Linked DNA regions of Homo sapiens: regions 1 and 3 are each reported to be linked to region 2. The links are microRNA targets in miRTarBase. Many come from high-throughput screens and were not tested one by one. Region 2 holds a microRNA gene; each other region holds the end of a gene's coding sequence.
What was found. The annotated mature microRNA hsa-miR-596 reads AAGCCUGCCCGGCUCCUCGGG and lies in region 2 at 4,712-4,732, opposite strand. An mRNA with a match to its seed (bases 2 to 7 or 8) in the 3' UTR can be bound and repressed. Matches are read on the target gene's strand: a 7mer-m8 pairs with bases 2 to 8, a 7mer-A1 pairs with bases 2 to 7 and ends in A, and an 8mer does both.

Region 1 (5,000 bases), not on the chromosome of region 2:
AAGAAACAAAAAAATGTGCCCTCAATGACCATTTGTGAATGAATGCATGCATGCCTATTGAAGAACTAAAATGTTACTTGTAAAGTTCATTTTGAAAGAAACCAGATTAAGTTACTCAATGGAATATCGGCTTATCTTTTCCTTCCAGGAAATAAATGTGACCTCTGGGAAAAGCGGCACGTCCTGTTCGAGGATGCCTGCACACTGGCTGAGAAGTACGGCCTCCTGGCCGTTTTGGAGACATCTGCCAAGGAGTCAAAGAACATAGAAGAAGTCTTCGTGCTCATGGCCAAGGAGCTGATCGCGCGCAACAGCCTGCACCTATATGGGGAGAGTGCCCTGAACGGCCTCCCCCTGGACTCCAGCCCCGTTCTTATGGCCCAGGGTCCAAGTGAAAAGACCCACTGCACTTGCTAAGATGTTTGCAAAGCCAGTTGCACCCACCAAAGAGGCCGCCTCTGAAACCAAAGGTAGCCAGGATACCGTAGTGTTGCCCCAGTGGCGCTTTAGACCCCAGCGTGGACTTGCCGCTCACCCCTAATCCTCCCAGTCTGGATGGGCCACACTTCTCCCTTGACTCACACCACAGGTCATAGCTGCTGACTCTCAGGAAAACCAGCACCATTGTTTTCACTGACTCTTGACTCCTGGAGAAGGCAGGACTTCAGGCTAGGAGAGGGAGGACGAAGTGTACTCTTCTCCCCTTTCACTTTTCTGTCTCCCTAGAGCTTCTGCTGCTTTCTACTGAATTTTGTTTCTTGCTTGAAGAAGAGGGTAGTGAAGGAAAGGAGGAAGGCAAAACAGCAAGAGAGAGAAGAGGCTGTTTGGAACATTCTGGAACAGTTTGAAACAGCTCAGGCAGGGAGAATGGAACGAAAGCCTGCAATGAGAAACCAGAATGCTGCTATCATTTTGTTCCTGACATTCACACCTCAGGTCTTCACTTTGGGGAGCGAAGCCTTTTAGCAGAAATACCAGAAGTACCATCTTGCCAAATGGTCAGGAACTGTCTGATAGAGATGGAACTGGAATTCACTCTATTCTAGCAGGGCTGACTTGGCCACCCTCTTGGGATAGGGGAAGACACCTGCAATTTTTTTTCTTTCTTTTTTTTTTTTTTTTTTTTGAGACAGGGTCATACTCTGTCACCCAAGCTGGAGTATAGTGGTGGGATCTTGGCTCACTGCAACCTCTACCTCCTGGGTTCAAGAGGTTCTCCCACCTCAGTCTCCCAAGTGGCTGGGACTACAGACACACGCCACCACTCCTGGCTAATTTTTGTATTTTTTGTAGAGACAAGGTTTCACCATGTTGCTCAGGCTGATCTTGAACTCCTGAGCTCAGGTGATCTGCCCACCTTGGCTTCCCAAAGTGCTGGGATTACAGGCATGAGCCACCATGCCTGTTCTTTTTTTTTTTTTTTTTTTTTGAGACTGAGTCTCACTCTGTCACTCAGGCTGGAATGCAGTGGCATGATCTCGGCTCACTGCAACCTCAACCTCCACCTCCTGGGTTCAAGCAATTCTCCTGCCTCAGCCTCCCAAGTAGCTGGGACTACTGGCACTCACTACCACGCCCAGCTCATTTTTTTTGTATATTTAGTAGAGACTGGGTTTCACTACGTTGGTCAGGCTGGTCTTGAACTCCTGACCTCATGATCCACCCGTCTCGGCCTCCTAAAGTGCTGGGATTACAGGCATGAGCCACCATGCCCGGCCCTTTTTTTTTTTTTTTTGAGACAGAGTTTCGCTCTTGTTGCCCAGGCTGGAGTGCAATGGTGTGACCTCGGCTCACTGCAACTTCTGCCTTCCAGATTCAAGTGATTCTCCTGCCTCAACCTCCCTAGTAGCTGGGATTACAGCCTCCCGCCACCACGCCTAGCTAATTTTTGTGTTTTTAGTAGAGGCAGGGTTTCACCACGTTGGCCAGGCTGGTCTCGAACTCCTGACCTCATGATCCACCTGTCTCGTGGCCTCCCAAAGTGCTGGGATTACAGGTGTGAACCACCGCACCTGGCCTTTTTTTATTATTATTATTGTAGAAATGAAGTCTTGCTACGTTGCCCAGGCTGGTCTCCAATTCCTGAGCTCACAGGTTTCTCCCACCTCAGCCTCCCAAAGTGCTGGGATTACAGGCATGAGCCACCATGCCTGGCACAATTTCTTTCTAGAACCCAAATCATCTGCCAGATCAGAAGTCATTTTTAAATTAAAATTAAATTGGTTCATAGATGAATATCAAGCCAGTGTTGTACTGCCCCTTCTGTAAGATATGGCCAGAGAGCAGCTGGTGCCTTCTGGGATGGAGTAACTGCGGCTTTCAGAACTAAACACGTAAGAGGAGGCTGGAAGTCACCAGGCACCCCTCGTTTCCAGGACTGTGTTAGGGGACATCAGGGCAGGCAGCAGGAGCAGGCCACGGAGCCCCTCCAGGGTCCCAGGGAACTGTGGACACTCACCTGGGGCTTCCGGAGGACAAACACCACTTATGATTGCAGCTGACATTTACTGAGCTGCTTCTCATGGCCAGAAGTTGTGTGAGGTCTGGGGAAAGCAAATGGTCCCTTTGGTTTGTGATGCCAGTGGAGGGGAAAAGAGGTACCAGCCGCATTCTGCTGCTCCTCTTTTTTTTTGAGACGGAGTCTCGCTCTGTCACCCAGGCTGGAGTGCAATGGTGTGATCTTGGCTCACTGCAACCTCCACCTCCCAGGTTCAAGTGATTCTCCTGCCTCAGCCTCCCGAGTAGCTGGGATTACGGGGGTATACCACCACACCTGGATAATTTTTGTATTTTTAGTAGAGACAGGGTTTCACCATGTTGGTCAGGCTGGTCTTGAACTCCTGACCTCAGGTGATCCACCTGCCTCAGCCTCCCAAAGTGCTGGAATTACAGGCTTGAGCCACTGCACCTGGCCTGCTGCTCCTCTTAACACCCTTGGACTTCCTGGCATCCTCTCATCCAGCAGTAGCTCTCAGTTCCCCCTTTCCCTGCGCCACATTTTTTTTTTTTTTTTTTGAGGCAGCGTCTCACTCTGTTGCCCAAGTTAGAGTGCAGTGGTGTCATCTCAGCTCACTGCAACCTCCACCTCCCAGGTTCAAGCGATTCTCCTGCCTCAGCCTCCTGAGTAGCTGGGACTACAGGCGCATGCCACCACACCCAGCTAATTTTCTGTATTTTTAATAGAGACGGGGTTTCACCGTGTTAGCCAGGATGGTCTCGATCTCCTGACTTTGTGATCCTCCCCCCTTGGCTTCCCAAAGTGCTGGGATTACAGGCGTGAGCCACCGTGCCCAGCCCTTTTTTTTTTTTTGAGACAGAGTTTCGTTCTTGTTGCCCAGGCTGGAGTGCAATGGTGCGATCGTGGCTCACCACAACCTCCACCTCCTGGGTTCAAGCGATTCTCCTGCCTCAGTCTCCTGAGTAGCTGGGATTACAGGCATGTGCCAACACGCCTGGCCAATTTTGTATTTTTAGTAGAGACAGGGTTTCTCCATGTTGGTCAGGCTGGTCCCGAACTCCCGACCTCAGGTGATCCGCCCGCCTCGGCCTCCCAAAGTGCTGGGATTACAGGTGTGAGCCACCGCGCCCAGCCCCCTGCTCCACTCTTAGCATCTGGGTATCAGGGCCCCAATCACAGCCTATCTGCCTTTCAGTGAGAGGAAGGCAGTCTTTAGGGCTCTTTCCCTGGACTGGTCTTCTCCTTGGCCTTAAGTTATTCTCCTGCTCCTTTATACATTTCTTGGTCTGCAAGGAGTCCTTAGGTAGGAGCCAGAATTTAAATTCTGACCTTCGGAATATATCCATAAACTAAGCCAACCACAGAGAAGAAGAGCAAAGCTAGGAGACCTACGAAGCACAAGCCTCCTCCCGGTTCTCCACCATCATCAGGAAGCACTCTTAATTTTTCTCAGTTAAGGTGCCTTTTAGAAATTTCTTGTCTTGCGACAGAGTTTTCATTCTTTGTTGATTAGTCTATTCTTGAGGAATGGATCCATCAATCTGTTCAGTGTGTGTCCCAGAGCCGACTCAGGGCGGGCACCGATCAAGATGAACAGCCTGCCGAGCCTCCTGTGGGGGCTAGCCCTCTCCTGTTCTGAGGAGCAGCCACGCAGCCTCCCCTGAAAGCAAACCTCGCCCTCTTTCCCCTCCTCCTTCACCCCCAGGAGGAGATCTCAGGTCAGAGACCAATGGCAGCCTGGAGTACTAGTGTTCCCTGACACATCCGTATTTTGATGGGAATCAAACACACAAACCTAGAGATAAAGCTGTAAGGTTGGAACTGTAGCCAGGACTTCAGCTCGCAGGATCACAGGAAAAGAAAGGCATCTAGAGAGAAGGTGGCCTTCTGGGAACCCCTAAGATCACCGCTGGGACAGCCATCGTCCTGGTGTGGGACATCCCCACTGGGAGATTGTTTTTCTATTCACAAGTATCCTCCACTCCAGGCCTCCCAGACAGGTGTTGAAGGGATGGAGATGGCTGCTTGGTGCCGGGTGGAGGGAGGGCTCTAAGGCTGGCTTTGGGAGGAGAGAGCTCCACACAAAGACACCAGCTGCCTGAGCAGCTCCCCTAAACAAGCTGCACCCCAGAGGAGTCATGTGAGTCCCTCATTTTTGCTGGAGTGTCTGCCCTTCCTCACAGAACCCTCCTCTCCTCACTTTGTTCACAAAGGGCAAGCTCTGAGACCAGCTGCCAAACCCTGGCTTCCACAGTCCAGTTAAGAATTTGCATTAGGCCGGGTTACCTGAGGTCAAGAGTTTGAGACCAGCCTGGCCAACATGGTGAAACCCCATCTCTACCAAAAATACAAAAATTCGCCGGGTGTGTTGGCGTATGCCTGTAATCCCAGCTACTCAGGAGGCTGAGGCAAGAGAATCACTTGAACCTGGGAGGCAGAGGTTGCAGTGAGCCGAGATGGTGCCACTGCACTCCAGCCTGGGTGACAGAGTGAGACTCCGTCTCAAAAATAAATAAATAAATAAACAAATAAGAATTTGCAC
Region 2 (7,266 bases):
CACTTGCTTCATGGCCCAACATTGTCTATTTTGGTAAATGTTCTATGAGCACTTGCTGAGAACATGCTTTCACTGACATAAAGTTCTACAGATGTCAATTAGGTCATATTTGTTACTGATTTTTTTATCTACTTGTACTTTTTATCTACTTGTACTTTTTATCTACTTGTACTGATAAGGGTGTATGAAAATCTTTGACTCTCCGTAGTCTATTCAGCATTGTCCTGCAGCATCTAACAAGTGTTGTAGGTCATAAAAACAAAAAGTGTAAGGATTGAGGGAGGAAAAACTGATTATTTACAGTCAATATGATTATATATGTTAAAAAACAAAATTATCTACAAATAAACTATTAGGATTAAAATAGAATTTAGGAATTTCAGATGGATCATAGACTTAAGTGTAAAAATTATAAAGTTGCTAGGATAAAATATAAGAAAAGATCTTACGGATCTTCAGGTAAGACAGAAAATGGACCGACCATTTAAAAATGATTAAATGGCTTATCAAAATTTAATATTTCTACTCATCTCATGACATCATTAAGAAAATGAAAAGGCAAGCCACAGACTGGGAGAACACAGGGGCAATGCATATATCCCACAAATGGCTTGTCTTAATCCACGTTGTGCTGCTGTAACAGAATACCTGGGAATGGGTGATTTACAATGAAAAGAAATTTATTTCTCACAGTTCTGGAGGCTGGGAAGTTCAAGATCAAGGAGCCACATCTGGCAAGAACCTTCGGGCTGCATCATCCCATGACGGAAGGTGGGAGGCGGAGGTGGGGAGGGAGGATGCAAAATGGGCCAAACTTATCTTTTTTTTTTTTTTTTTTGAGACGGAGTCTTGCTCTGTCATCAGGCTGGAGTGCAGTGGTGCGATCTCTGCTCACTGCAACCTCCGACTCCCTGGTTCAAGCTATTCTGCCTCAGCCTCCCGAGTAGCTGGGATTACAGGTATGTGCCACCACACCCAGCTAATTTTTGTATTTTTAGTAGAGACGAGGTTTCACCCAAACTCATTCTTTTATAAGGAGCCCACCGCCTCAGTCATGGCATTTATCCATCCATGAGGGTCATACCCCCATGACCCAGACACCACCTAGTAGGCACCTTCCAACACTGCTGCATTGGGGGTCAAGTTTCCAACACATAAACTTTGGGGAAAACGCGTTCAAACCATAGTCCTGGTAAATAGAGAACTCCTGCAAATGAACAATAACAAGACAAGTCTATTTCAAAAGGGACAAAACAATATAACAATAACAAGCCTGTAAATAACAATAACAAGTCTATTTAAAAATAAACAAAAGACGTAAATACTTCACCAAAGATGTACTGATAGCCAACAAGAACAGGAAATAGTGCTCAGTGTTACCCAAAGTAAACTCACAATGAGATGCCACCACCGTCATCCAAGCACGGCTGAAACTGCAGACCGACATGGCAAGGGTAAAAATGTGGAGCCCCTGGAACCACTATACAAGGCGATGAGAGTGCAAATGGCGCAACCACTCTGATTAATTGTTTGCCCATTTCTCAGCAATCCCACTTTTAGGTTTGCCCAAGGCAAGTGAAAACATAAGTCCCTTAAAAGACTTTTACAGCCAGACATGGTGACTCCCACCTGTAACCCCAGCACTTTAGGAGGCCAAGGTGGAGGATTGCTTGAGCCCAGGAGTCTAGCATGATAGTCTCCACCTCCAGTCCCAGCTACTTAGGAAGCTGAAGTGGGAGGATCGCTTGAGGCTGGGAGGTCAAGGCTGTAATGAGTCATGTTCACCACCACTGCACTCTAGCCTGGGTGGACAGAGCAAGACCCTGTCTCAAAAAAAAAAAATGATTTTTACAAGAATTCTTTCTTCAAAACAGTTCAAATACTTCGCAACTGGAAACAACCCAAATTCCATCAACAGGTGAACTCATAAAGTATTGTATCTTCATAGAATAATAGAATACTAATAATACAGTAATAAAAAGGAAGAAACTGATATGTTCAATAACAATGAATCTTGAAAACATGAAAAACATAGACAAAAGGGCACATATAGTATGATTCAATTTTTATGAAATTCAAGAATGTGCCAAACCAACCTATAATAATAGGAATCAGAACAGTGGTTATTTTTGGGGGTATTGTCTCAGAAAAGACAAAGGAATTCTGGGGAGTGATGAAAACGGTGACTACATCTTGATTTGATTTGCAGACACATGGGTGTGTTCACTTTGTAAATAGAATCAAGCCGAACACAAGAGTAAGCTACTTCATGGGATATATACAGTGGCCTCAATGCATCCCCCTTGATGACTGAAAGTTCATCACCAACGTGATAGCAGTAAGAGGTGGGGCCTTGAGGAGGTTAGTGGGTCATGAGGGATGGGCTTAGTGCCCTTGTAGAAGTGCCAGGGGGCTGTTCACCCCTCCTACCAGTGAGGGCACAGTGCTCAAGGTGCTGTCTTGTGAGCAGAGACCAGGCTCTCCCCAGACACTGAACCTGTTGGCACGTTGATCTTGGACTTCCCCACGTCCAGAACTGTGAGAAATAAACTCCTGTTGTCTATAAATGACCCAGTCTCTGGTGTTTTGTTACAGTAGCAGGAACAAATTAAGTTATGTATCAGCAAAAAGGGGTTTTAAAAGCTGGGTTCCTTTAAAAAAATAATGATTCCCTTTATTGACGGAATACAAAATATCCCTTAATTAATTGCAAGCAAATTAAGTGCAAGGCCCATGCAGAGGGTAGGGATAATCTATACCCTAGTTAGGACATTCAGAAAGGAAAAAAATGGCAAAGACAGCCTGCCTGGTTCTAGGCCTCGCCTCTACTCCAGAGACGTCTCCATGCCCCACGCGGAGCGGGTGCGTGAGGTCAGCTCTAGCAGGGCCTAAAGGCCTGGGCTCTATCATCAAATAGGCCCGGGGGCTTCTGCCTCTTTTACCACTATATGGATGAACATGGGCGTCATTCAATGTCCTGGGCCTCAGTCTCCTCACTGAAAACAAGAGCAAAACCTACTTAGGCAGCATGAAGACTCAACACTTTCATGTGCAGAGACCGGTGTCAGGGCACCTGACCCCATGGACATCTCGGGGGAGCCTGAGGCACTGTCCGAAGATGGAAGCTTGTATCCACTCCTGGGCACAGTTCCTGGGTTCACATCCCAGGCACTTCCCTTACCAGCTGTGCTATCTGCATTGCTGTGCCTCAGTTTCCTGCAAAGAATTGGAAAGACATTCGCACCTACTGTGCGGGTCAGTTTTATATGTCACCTTGACCAGGTGACAGTCCCCGGTAATTCATTCAACATGGGTCCAGATGTGGCTGTGGAGGTGTTCTGTTGGTGTGCAAAAGACCCATCACAGTGGACTTTAAATGAGGAAGACTATGTTAGACAATCCGGGTGGGCCCGATTCAGCACTGGAAAGGCTTTCCAGAGAAGAAATTCCGCTGTGGGCGGTAGCTTCAGCTCTGCCCCAGGTCCAGCCTGCCCTTCCCACGGCCTGCCTGCCTGGACCTCGCTCCCAGGCCCCCATCGTGGTGCCGGATCCAGGCTCTAAATCTCTCCAGGTCTGCCTCCTACTGGCTGAACCTTGGCTGAGGCCACTTGTAGGATGGCGCCATTGAAAGGGAGATGGCATGCACACATCTCAGAACTACTCCACTCCGCAGGCGGGGAGCGAGACACTGAGCCCGGGGACGGCGAACAACCCTGGATGTGAGACCTCAGACAAGTCCCTGACCGTACTGAGCCTGCTATCTCGTGGATACAGGGTTAGTCACCAGTCCCTGGCTCTGGAGCGGCGGTGAAGATGAAGGCATCCTGGGTGCACCTGGCGCTCTGCCTGGCCCACAGCGCACGTGGGGCAGACCTCAGGCCGCAGTCACGGGGCTGCTCAGGTGCTGCGATGGGAGAAGAGCCAGGAAGTGAGTCTCCACCCAGTGCCGCTCAGTCACGGGACCCAGGTACAGCCTGGCAGAGGACAGACGGCGCTCCAGGGAGACCCTGGGGCAGCGTGGGGCTGGGGTGGGGCTGTCACACGGCAGAGGCCCTGGGCAAGTGCGGAGGCCACACGAACATGGGGTGCAGGGGGTACATGGAAATCAGAGGCCCCCTTCAGGCCTCTCAGCCTCCCAGCCTCGAGCCATGAGTTCTGTCTGGGCTCACGCAACCCCAGACGTGGCTGAAGAGGCTGGAGTGTCGACGAGCGCTGGGAAGAAGCTGCCGACCTCACTGCTCCGCGCCCTGCCTTCCCCTCCCTCCTGCCGTCCCCAGTCACCCCGAGGCATCACCCGGCCGGGCTCCCTGGGGCAACACATCCGAGAGCCCCCAGCAGGCCACACCCCTCCCAGCGCCTGTCCCCACAGGGGGCTCGGGACTTACAGGGAACAGTACAGCCTGGGGGCCATCGCAGATGCCCTCCAGGAAAGCAGGATGCTCTGCAGATAGGACGGCTGTGGCCGCTGCCCCAGGAAACAGCCCAGGACGCTGCCTGAGCTCAGAGGGTTCCGGACACAGACCGCGCTCCCCGCTTTGCAAACCACACCCAGTCCATTTCCTAGTGTGAGTTTGTCTCTACTCATCGGTTTGTGTCTTTATAAGAGTTCTAAAGTAAAACAAAAACACACAAGGACAGTGACCTAGACAGCACCCAGGGATGGGTCGGGTCGGCCTCCGAAGGGCAGCAGCTGCCATGCGGGAGGCAGGTTCCCGAGGAGCCGGGCAGGCTTCGGAGAGGCCGTGCTCGCTTTCCCGACTGTGGCGACGGATCCACCTGCTATGCGTTCCTCAGAACTCACTGAACCGCCCACGTTAATGACGCGCAGTTCGCCGTGTGCCAATGACGCCTCAATCAAGCTGCTAAACGAAGGCCGGAGCAGCCCTGCCTGTGGGGCTGTAATGTTTTCTGCAGCCTTGATGAGCCGCCCTGGGCTGTTTCAAAGGGAACGCAGCAGTCTCCTCTTGACTTCCGCAGTGGCCGTATTCCTGGGCCGTGCGGTGGGTGTGTCTGCAGGTAAACAGGGAGTATCTAGGCTCGGATGGTTACAGACGGCTTTCCCCGTGGGCGGCGTCCCGTGGGCCCTATGCAAGCTGCGCAGGCCGCCCTGGGCTCTGCCGCGAGTGCGTGGGCGGCAGGACGGTGCATCCCGGGCCTCCACCGGTCAAATGCTCCACACTGACCACCGCAGCACCCCCCCGCTCTCCCGGGCAAATTCTAAAGCTTCCCTAGCGGGGAGTTCCTGCTGGGGAACTTTCTCCATCCGCCCTCTTGGACCTCACAGGCTTCTTCCGCCTTCCCAAACGGACGCTGCACCCCGTCTCGTTAGAACGCTGCACCCCATCTCGTTAGAACGCTGCACCCCGTCTCGTTAGAACGCTGCACCCCGTCTCGTTAGAACGCTGCACCCCGTCTCGTTAGAACGCTGCACCCCATCTCGTTAGAACGCTGCACCCGTCTCGTTAGAACGCTGCACCCCGTCTCGTTAGAACGCTGCACCCCATTTCGTTAGAAAGCTGCACCCCGTCTCGTTAGAACGCTGCACCCCATCTGGTTAGAACGCTGCACCCCATCTCGTTAGAACGCTGCACCCCATCTGGTTAGAACGCTGCACCCCATCTCGTTAGAACGCTGCACCCCATCTCGTTAGAACGCTGCACCCCATCTGGTTAGAACGCTGCACCCCATCTCGTTAGAACGCTGCACCCCATCTGGTTAGAACGCTGCACCCCGTCTCGTTAGAACGCTGCACCCCGTCTCGTTAGAACGCTGCACCCCGTCTGGTTAGAACGCTGCACCCCATCTCGTTAGAACGCCGCCATGGCCTGCATGTGTGTCCGCTCCAAATCTCATGTTGAAATTGTATCCCGTGTTGGAGGTGCCTCCTGGTTGGAAGTGTCTGCGTTATGGGGGTGGGTCCCTCGTGAATAGATTAATGGAGGGGCTGTGAGTGACTTCTTGCTGTATTAGTTCTGTGAAAGCTGGATGCTAAAAAGAGCCTGGCACCTCCCCCATGCTTCCTTTCTTTTCTTTCTTTCCTTCCTTCCTCCCTCCCTCCCTCCCTCCCTCCCTCCCTCCCTCCCTTCTTTCTTTCTTTCTTTCTTTCTTTCTTTCTTTCTTTCTTTCTTTCTTTCTTTCTTTCCTTCTTTCTTTTCTTTCTCTTTCTCTCACTCTCTCCTTCCTTCCTTCCTTTCTGTTTCTTTCGACGGAGTCTTGGTGTCTTGCTCTGTCGCCCAGGCTGTAGTACAGTGGCACGATCTGAGCTCACTGCAACCTCCACCTCTGTGTTCAAGCAATTCTCCTGCCTCAACCTCCCAAGTAGCTGGGATTACAGGCATTTACCACCACACCTGGCTAATTTGTGTATGTTTAGTAGTAATGAGGTCGTGCCATGTTGCCCAGGCTCATCTCAAACTCCTGACCTCGGGTGATCCTCCTGTCTAGGCCTCCCAAAGTGCTGGGATTACAGGCATGAGCCACCGCGCCTGGCCGCCTCCTGCCACTTTCTCTCTCTGATCTCTCCGCGTGCCGGCTCCTCTTCCCCTTCCACCGTGAGTGGAAGCAGCCTGAGCCCCTCCCCAGGTGCAGGTGCTGGCGCCATGCTTCTAGTACAAAAAGGGGCCAAATAAACCTCTTTTCTTTATAAATTACCTAACCTCAGGTGTTCCTTTCTAGCAACACAAACAGGCTGAGGAACACACTGCGGACATTTCGGTGGGAGAAAACAGTGGGTAGATGTCACCAGGAAAACGGATTGCAGAAGAAGGGAAAGTGGAGGGGCAGACAGAACACACACTCGGCACACTCGGCTTCCCTACGTGAGCATGGTCCTCCTCTCATCCCAAGCTAAGAGATAGTCCAGTCCACACAGCGAGGGCTCCCAGCATAGATGCCAACACCCACATCTCACGGGGCATTCAGTGGCCTTGGGGTCTTGCCTTCCCGGCTGGAGAGCCTAGAGCGGATGGTCTGGCTGAAACAGAGGCTTGTCCCTAGCTACATAAACGAGCATTGCAGTGTGTCTCTAGGGGTTCACTCACACTAGTCTGGTCTGCTGAATTAGAAATGCACCTTGAACCAACCTGGCCATCATGGCAAGACTCGCCTCTACAAAAAAATTAATACATAAATAAAATAGCTGAGCCTGGTGGCGTGCACCTATGGTCCCAGCTACTTGGGAGGCTGGGGCTGGGGGATCACTTGGGCCCAAGAGCGTGAGGCCACAGCGAGCTATGATGGCACCACTGCCCTCCAGCCTGGGCGTCA
Region 3 (7,266 bases), not on the chromosome of region 2:
CCTAAATCACCTGCACTGTTTTTTATGTAAGCACTTGTGGGCATTTTTTTTTCCCAGAGGAAAAGGGCCCATGGCTTTCCAAAGAGCATCCCCAAGGGGTCCACATCCGCTAGAAGGTGAAGAACATGGTTATTCCTGGAAGAACGGAGTCTCTGGTCACCATTTGATTTTTATGGGTTTCTAACAACGCTCCACAGCCCCCTGCCTTCTTTCACCTCAGCAAGTGAGGTGTAGGCAGCACCCTAGACACAGCATGAGTGGCAGCTGTGACACAATATTCTAGAAAGAATCCAGAACTTAAGAGTCCAGAGGTTGGGGGTCACCAATTCCCTATGGGGGCAGCCCTGAACCACACTCTGCCCTAGGCCTCTGTTCCCTCGTCTGTGAAATGATAAACACAGTCCGAGGGGGATTCCACGTGGCCCCGAGCACAGAGACTTTCCCTACAAGCCCCTCCTTATCTTCCCTCTACCCCCTTTTAATATTTCATCCTCTCTCCCCACATTTTTCTTCTTCTGTCACCTTTCTTCACCCTAACCTGCAGCGCCGTGGGCTTAGCTAACCACTCCGGGGTGGTCAACCCTGGCCTGGATTCTCGACAAGCACCCTGTGGCTGTCCTAGGCATGGGTCCTGCTTTATCCTGAACCCACTGCAGAGCCTTTGGCTGCTCCTGCAAATCCAAACAGGACCTGCCCTGCCCACCCTCTACCTGGCCGCCGCATCCCCTCACAAAGTTGAGCTCTCTTGGACCCCAGGGCCAGCAGCCACGCTACCCCCCTTTGCCCTGGAATCCCAACCCATCCTTCGAGACCCCCTGTATGCATCTCTTCCCCAGGACCCACCCAATTTGTTCTCACTGCGCACTCCCCAGCCTTCTGTCCATTGTAATGAAATAGCTGTGTAGTTACTGCTGGATGTCTGCTCTCCCTCTAGAATAAAAGCTCCACGAGGGTAGAGCCGAGTCTCTCTGGTTTACTGCCATATCCCCCACATCTGACACAGAGTTGTGTTCAATAAACATGCATTTCACGAATTAACAGATGGATAGAAGCCCAGATGCAGGAATGAGCACGTGAGCCCAAACCCTTTCCACCCTGTGCCGCCCTTAGGTTATCCCAAAGGAGAAATGCTGAGGCAGGAGGATGTTGTGCTGTTAATGGGATGGATTTTGTAGCACTTGGAGGTGATGTAACAGACACAGTGGACACCAGGAGGCGAGGCGGGGTCTTCACCCACCACCATTTCTTGAGAAGAAAGGGCAGGCTGAGATACCGATTGCACAAAATCTTAACTGAAGAGGCTCCCACTCTTTGAATCTGTCTCCCTTGCATTTTTTTTTTTTTTTTCTGATTTATTCTTGAGCTCTGGTTCTGGTGATATTGAAGTTCAGCTCTTGACTCCTGTGGTGGCTGCCACCAGAGAGGAGGGAAGTGATCTAATTCCCAGCAAGGGAGTGCAGACAGGGTCAGGAGGTCCCCCTTGGAGAGGGTGGCTTGTTTGGGGTTTTTAATGGTGGAAAAGTAGTGCATGAAGGACACTGGCTACTAGGTCCCATTGCGTGGTCGTCTGGTCATGGCCTGGTGATTTTTGTTCTGCCTGTATCTTCCCCAGCAAGGAGCTGGACAGAAGGACGAACAGTTCCCCCAGGTAGCCCCTGCTCTCTGCCTCGTGGCTCAGCACCAGGAGGCTCACAGCACTTGCTGTGACTTCCTCCCTCTTACAGCTATTTTTATCATTATTCTAAGATTGAAGCAGGGGGCAGGCGAGGGGAGCAACTGGAATGAGCTACACTGAAGTCTCCCCTCACCCACCCACTCTTCCCTTCTATCCACAGGTGGGCCGCCACCTTGATACGTTCCCCACGGAGGCCGATCGCCAGAGAGCATTAAAAGCCCACCGGGAAGAGTGTGCCGTGCGCCAGGGGACCCTGCGGATGGGCAACTACACCCACCCCTAGCCCCTCCCTCCCCTGCCACAAGAAGCCATCTTGACATAGTGGAAAATTCCCAGAAGGACTCCCTATCTTGCCCCAACCCTGACATTCCCCCATTTTTATGCAGGTTCTGCTTCAAGGAGCTCAGATTCAAGTCTTAGGCTAATTGTTTTTGGTAAAAGTCCCCCCTTTTAGGTTAGCCAACATTAGTCTCCACTTAGCCCCAGTGACCCTCTACCTGGAGCCTCCTCCTCTCCTCCTCCTTCTCCTCCTAGGGCAGGCTCACCCTGCCTCTTCTCAAGCCCTCACCTGCCAAGACAAGCCCAAATTACAAGACAATTTTTTAGACTCCAGGCTAAGGGTCGATTCCATGGCTCTGCCCATTAAGTGTTAAGAACGACCTGTGTATTTGCTGCAGAAAGCATGACAGTGACGTGCTTTGAAAGCCCTCATTTTCTATTCCAAACATGAGTTTTAATTGCTCTTTTTGGGATGCCTGATGTCTCATCACGGCAGTATTATCTCTCTGGGACCTCTGACAGCAGGAAGAGCCAATGGTTCATTACTCGAGCCTGCCCCCGCCTCCTCAGTGCTGGGGCCCCGTCAATCAAGCAGGCCAAGTTGGACTCCTCCCCCAGGACTGACTTTGGAAGGTCAACCCACTCTGGAAAAAGCCTTCCAGGCCAGCGGGTAGACTGCTGAACACAGGCTGCTGAGCTTCTCAGCCGAATTCCTGGACACTTCCTCACTCGGTCTTTCCGTGTGTTCTTTGGATTCTCTCTGAAAATTTTATGCTGATCTATTTTAAATTAAAAATGCTATTTGTCATCCTCCTTTTGTGTCTCCATTTGAAAACCAGTGAGCAAATCAGCCTTAGAGACATCAAATGAGGGTGCTGCCACATAGAGACCTCTCAAGGTAAGCTAACCTCCAAAACATTCCAGCCACACCTTTTTTGAGGGAGGCAAATTTTCAAGTTTTAAATATCATTTCTAATCTAAGGGTTTTTTTTGTTTGTTTGCTTGTTTGTTTTTGAGACAGAGTCTCACTCTGTTGCCAGGCTGGAGTGCAGGGGCGCAATCTCAACTCACTGCAACCTCTGCCTCCTGGGTTCAAGCGATTCTCCTGCCTCAGCCTCCCGAGTTGCTGGGACTACAGGTGCGCACCACCACACCCAGCTAATTTTTGTATTTTTAGTAGAGATGGGGTTTCACCATGTTGGCCAGGATGGTCTTGATCTCTTGACCTCATGATCTGCCCCCCTCGGCTTCCCAAAGTGCTGGGATTACAGGCATGAGCCACCGCGCCCAGCCAAGGATTTCTTTCTTTTTTTTTTTTTTTTTAAACAGAGTCTTGCTCTGCCGCCCAGGCTGGAGTGCAGTGGTGCAATCTCGGCTCACTGCAAGCTCCACCTCCTGGGTTCACACCATTCTCCTGCCTCAGCCTCCTGAGTAGCTGGGACTACAGGTGCCCGCCACAACGCCCGGCTAATTTTTAAAAAATATTTTTAGCAGAGACGGGGTTTCACCATGTTAGCCAGGATGGTCTCGATCTCCTGACCTTGTGATCCACCCACCTCAGCCTCCCGAAGTGCTGGGATTACAGGCGCATGCCACCATGCCCAGCTAATTTTTGTATTTTTAGTAGAGATGGGGTTTCACCGTGTTGGGCAGGCTGGTCTCAAACTCCTGACTTCAGGTGATCCACCCGCCTCAGCCTCCCAAAGTGCTTGAATAACAGGCATGAGCCACCACGCCCAGCCCCCAGACTCATTTATCCAACTGCCCACTCAGCATCTCCCCTTGGGTGTCTGGCATTCATTGTTAACCACCATAGCCAAGGCAGACACTTGACTTTTTTTCTGCCAAACTTACTTCTCCCTCCGTCTTTCCCATCTCATAAGTAAGACCACCATCTACCCAGCTGTGGAAGCCAAAAGTCTTCAATACTCATTTTCCTTCATCCCTCCAATCTCCCAAGCAGGCAGAGTCTGAGTGGGCTGGCCCTGAGCAGGCGGTAGCACGCCATACCGCAAAAGAGTGCGAAGCACAGCTCTGCCCAGCAATTTCTGTGTGATCTTGAGCAACAGTCCTATCCTCTCTATGCCTCATCTCAGAGACAGGACCCCACGCATCACAGACTGTGTCTTCAAGCTAAATCAGGTGACCATTACATTAAAGAATGTGCATGACATGATTAGTACAGCAACTGGCACTTTTAAGCAATAGATTAATATGAATTATTATTTTTTTCTTATCACTGACTCACACTGCAGAGGCATCAACCAGAGCCCTGTGAGTGACTGAGGGACTGGGCAGGCCAGGACGCTCACGAGGACGGAGGGCTTTCATCCAGATACATCCAGAAGCTGAAGGATATTTTGAATCGAGCCCACTCTTTCGCTCTGAAATCCCCTACGGAAAGGGGAGGGGGCACATCAGGAGGCAGAAGAGTTTCCTGAAGAACCCAAAATTGGCCCCACTGTGGCAACAGAGATGCCCTCCCAGGCCTGCTTTTCCCCAGGACCTGGGCCGAGGCAGGCAGGACAGGCTCAGCTAGGAAATCTCTTTTGTTTCTCCAATCACTCCTTGCCCCATTTGCTGTGGGACCCGCTAGGGCTGTGGCAGATGCCCTGGAAGCATCACTCTGGGTGCTCTCTGGAGTCCTCCGGGTGCTCCCAGCCCAGGCCGGAAGCAGTGCTCACTGGAGAGACCCTCAGCTCCTTGTCCTACAGTGCCACCTGCTGGCGAGTCTGAGTCAGAGGCGGCGGAGATTCCCGGCCCTTCCCTCTCTCCTGGCGTCCTTCCCCCACCAAGCCTGGTTCTTCCCGCCTCATTGATTATCTGTGACTGCACAAAGCCCCGAGTCTGATTCTGGCCTGATTCTACTTTCTTGGGTATCCTGTCACCTCGGCCAAACCCCTGTCCTCACCTGAGCTGACCCTGGCTGGGGCAACTACCTGCCCTTTATGACCTGGATAGAGTCCCCACAGCGTCCAGCCTGGAAGGGCCTTGGGGATCATCTTGTTCGTCTCCCTCCACTGCCATTTCCTCAACTTCATAGGTGGAAAGTGGACGTGAAAGGAATCCTGAGTCCACTCACGAAGCCAGGGCAGTGAACTCTCCCAGGCCAGTGACGTCCACGACACGTTCCAGAGCCTGCCCCCCAAAACCCCTTCCCAATGAAAGATGGATGGAAATGGGGATAGCCTAGCTTTCCATCCCAAGTCCTCCCAGTCACGCACCAACAAATGCCGGGTGAGCGTGAGTGTCGTTGGAGGTATGACTTTGTGCCTCCGTTTTGGCTAATTTCCTCACTGGTTGGCAGTTAGGAACATTCTACCTCCTGGTTGACCTTCTTGGCAACACCTCATAGGAGGTTTAACCAAAGAGGTCCACAGGCACTGTTTCCACAGGCCTAGGGAGGCAGCTGGTCTGGGCCCTCACCTGGCCTGCTTGAAATTCTCTGAAGTCCCCTCCAAGGTAAGAGGGAGGCAGCACCACACTTATGTGCACCTGGCAAGGTGGACGGGGCAAGTGCAGGACTGGGTGCCAGAGCGTGGAGATGGAGCCGTTGGGAAGAGGACTCATGAAGATGGACAGGCTTAAGGACACCTGGAGACGAGGCTGAGTCTTCACCCACCACCATTTCTTGAGAAGAAAGGGCAGGCTGAGATACCGATTGCACAAAATCTTAACTGAAGAGGCTCCCACTCCTTGGATCTGTCTCCCTTGCATTTTTTTTTTTCTGATTTGTTCTTGAACTCTGGTTCTGGTGCTGTTGAGGTTCAGCTCTTGACTTCTATGGTGGCTGCCACTGGGCAGGAGGGAAGTGATCTACTTCCCAGCAAGGGACTGCAGACAGGGCCAGGAGGTCCCCCTTGGAACATCCAGGAGAAGATAAAGGGTGGTAGAGCTACTTAGCATCCATACAGTGGCAGGACAGACTTCCCGGATGAAAGGTCCAGCTCTCCTCCCACACTGACCCCCACTGGCTTCAGTCCATGGCCAGATTTTTAGAGCCCAAACTTCATTAATTCTGTCTCTCTCTCTAAGATATAACCATATAATTAATTAACAATTTCCTTGGTCAGAAGAGAGAAGGTGGTTCTGGAGTCTCACTGTTGTGGAGGAATGGTAGCCATGAGCTACCATAAGGCCAGCCATGTCTGCTGCCTGCCTAGCAGGGGGCTCCTGGAAGCACTGCTCATAGGCCACAGACCCAATTCTAGTCCCCAGGGAGGTCCCTGGATCCACACAGAGTTGGTTTGGCTTTTAATTCATCTATCCCAGTGCCCCAACTAAACCACAGATTTAGAAGTCCAGGGAAGGCACGTCTCTGCAGCAAGCTGATCCCAGCCTAGGTGCTGAGGTGTGCCCCCAATGGCAGCCAGACAGGTCTGTGTCTCCAACCAAGCACCTTCGCTTGCATTTATCCGTATGAACCCAATCATTCTTTTTGCTGTACTCATTTTTACTTGGGAAACCCTTTGATGCTTAAAATCATCACTAAGGAAAAATAAAACTAGGTTGGCTTTTTATGCAGGTTCCTAGAATTGAATGCAGGTAACTTATAAACTTGAATGTACAATGGGAGATTATCTATGAAGGGGATTTAGATCCATGGGCACCAATGCATTCTGTGGGCTCCATTCAAGTGGATCAGCTCTGTCCCACTCTCCATGACTCACCAGTATCTGGCATGATGCACAGGATGGAGGGTATGCTAGGAAGGAAGGGAGGAAGGAAGGAAGGAGGGAAGGGGAGGGGAGGGATGGAGAGAGGAAGGGAAGGAAGAAGGAAAGAATGGAGGGAGAAAAAAAGGAAGGGAGGGAAGAAGGAAAGAAGAAACAGGGAGGGAGTGAGTGGGGAGGGAAACAGGAAGAAAAGGAGGGTGAGAGGAAGAAGAGAGAGGAAGAGAGGAAGGAAGAAAGGGAGGGAAGGGGCAGGAAGGGAGGGAGGAGGAGCCAATGGGAAGGAAGGGAGAAAGGGAAGAGGGGAGGAAGACAGGAAGGAAGGGAGGGAGGAGAGGAGAAAGGAAGGGAGGGAGGTAGGAAGAGAGGGAAGGATGAAAAGAGGAAAAGAAAAAATATGTTCTTTTCCTGGTTTCAGGAGCTCTATGAGGTTTTAAGCTAAAACAAAACAAACAAACAAAAAAAAAACACATAAGAACAGCATGACCTTGAAGCCCACAAATTGCCCAAATCCTTGTCCAACTCCACTGTTTGCAGAGCAGAGAGATGACACCCAGGCCTGGCCTGTATCATTCGAATCCTCTGCTCACTTTGCCTTAAAAACTGGTTTTGGTAGGAAGACCCTGGGTAAAGGTGGGT

Region 1: miRTarBase lists RAB19 as a target of hsa-miR-596. Seed matches in the 3' UTR shown: 7mer-A1 at 666-672.
Region 3: the mRNA of CFAP77 is a reported target of hsa-miR-596. Seed matches in the 3' UTR shown: 7mer-m8 at 2,211-2,217 and 7mer-A1 at 2,286-2,292.

The regions. Positions count from the first base shown.
Region 1 is chr7:140,425,734-140,430,733 of GRCh38, forward strand. RAB19 (RAB19, member RAS oncogene family) reads left to right here. Exons shown (of 4, transcript NM_001008749.3): 4 at 149-2,241. The coding sequence ends at 417. Among named protein-coding and RNA genes, the nearest start is that of RAB19, 24 kb to the left of the region's middle.
Region 2 is chr8:1,814,712-1,821,977 of GRCh38, reverse strand. MIR596 (microRNA 596) reads right to left here and starts at 4,747; the gene lies at 4,671-4,747. RefSeq lists enhancers at 4,780-5,447, 5,448-6,116, 6,796-7,266.
Region 3 is chr9:132,570,553-132,577,818 of GRCh38, forward strand. CFAP77 (cilia and flagella associated protein 77) reads left to right here. Exons shown (of 6, transcript NM_001282957.2): 6 at 1,836-2,767. The coding sequence ends at 1,958. Among named protein-coding and RNA genes, the nearest start is that of BARHL1, 8.4 kb to the right of the region's middle. RefSeq lists a silencer at 4,688-4,757.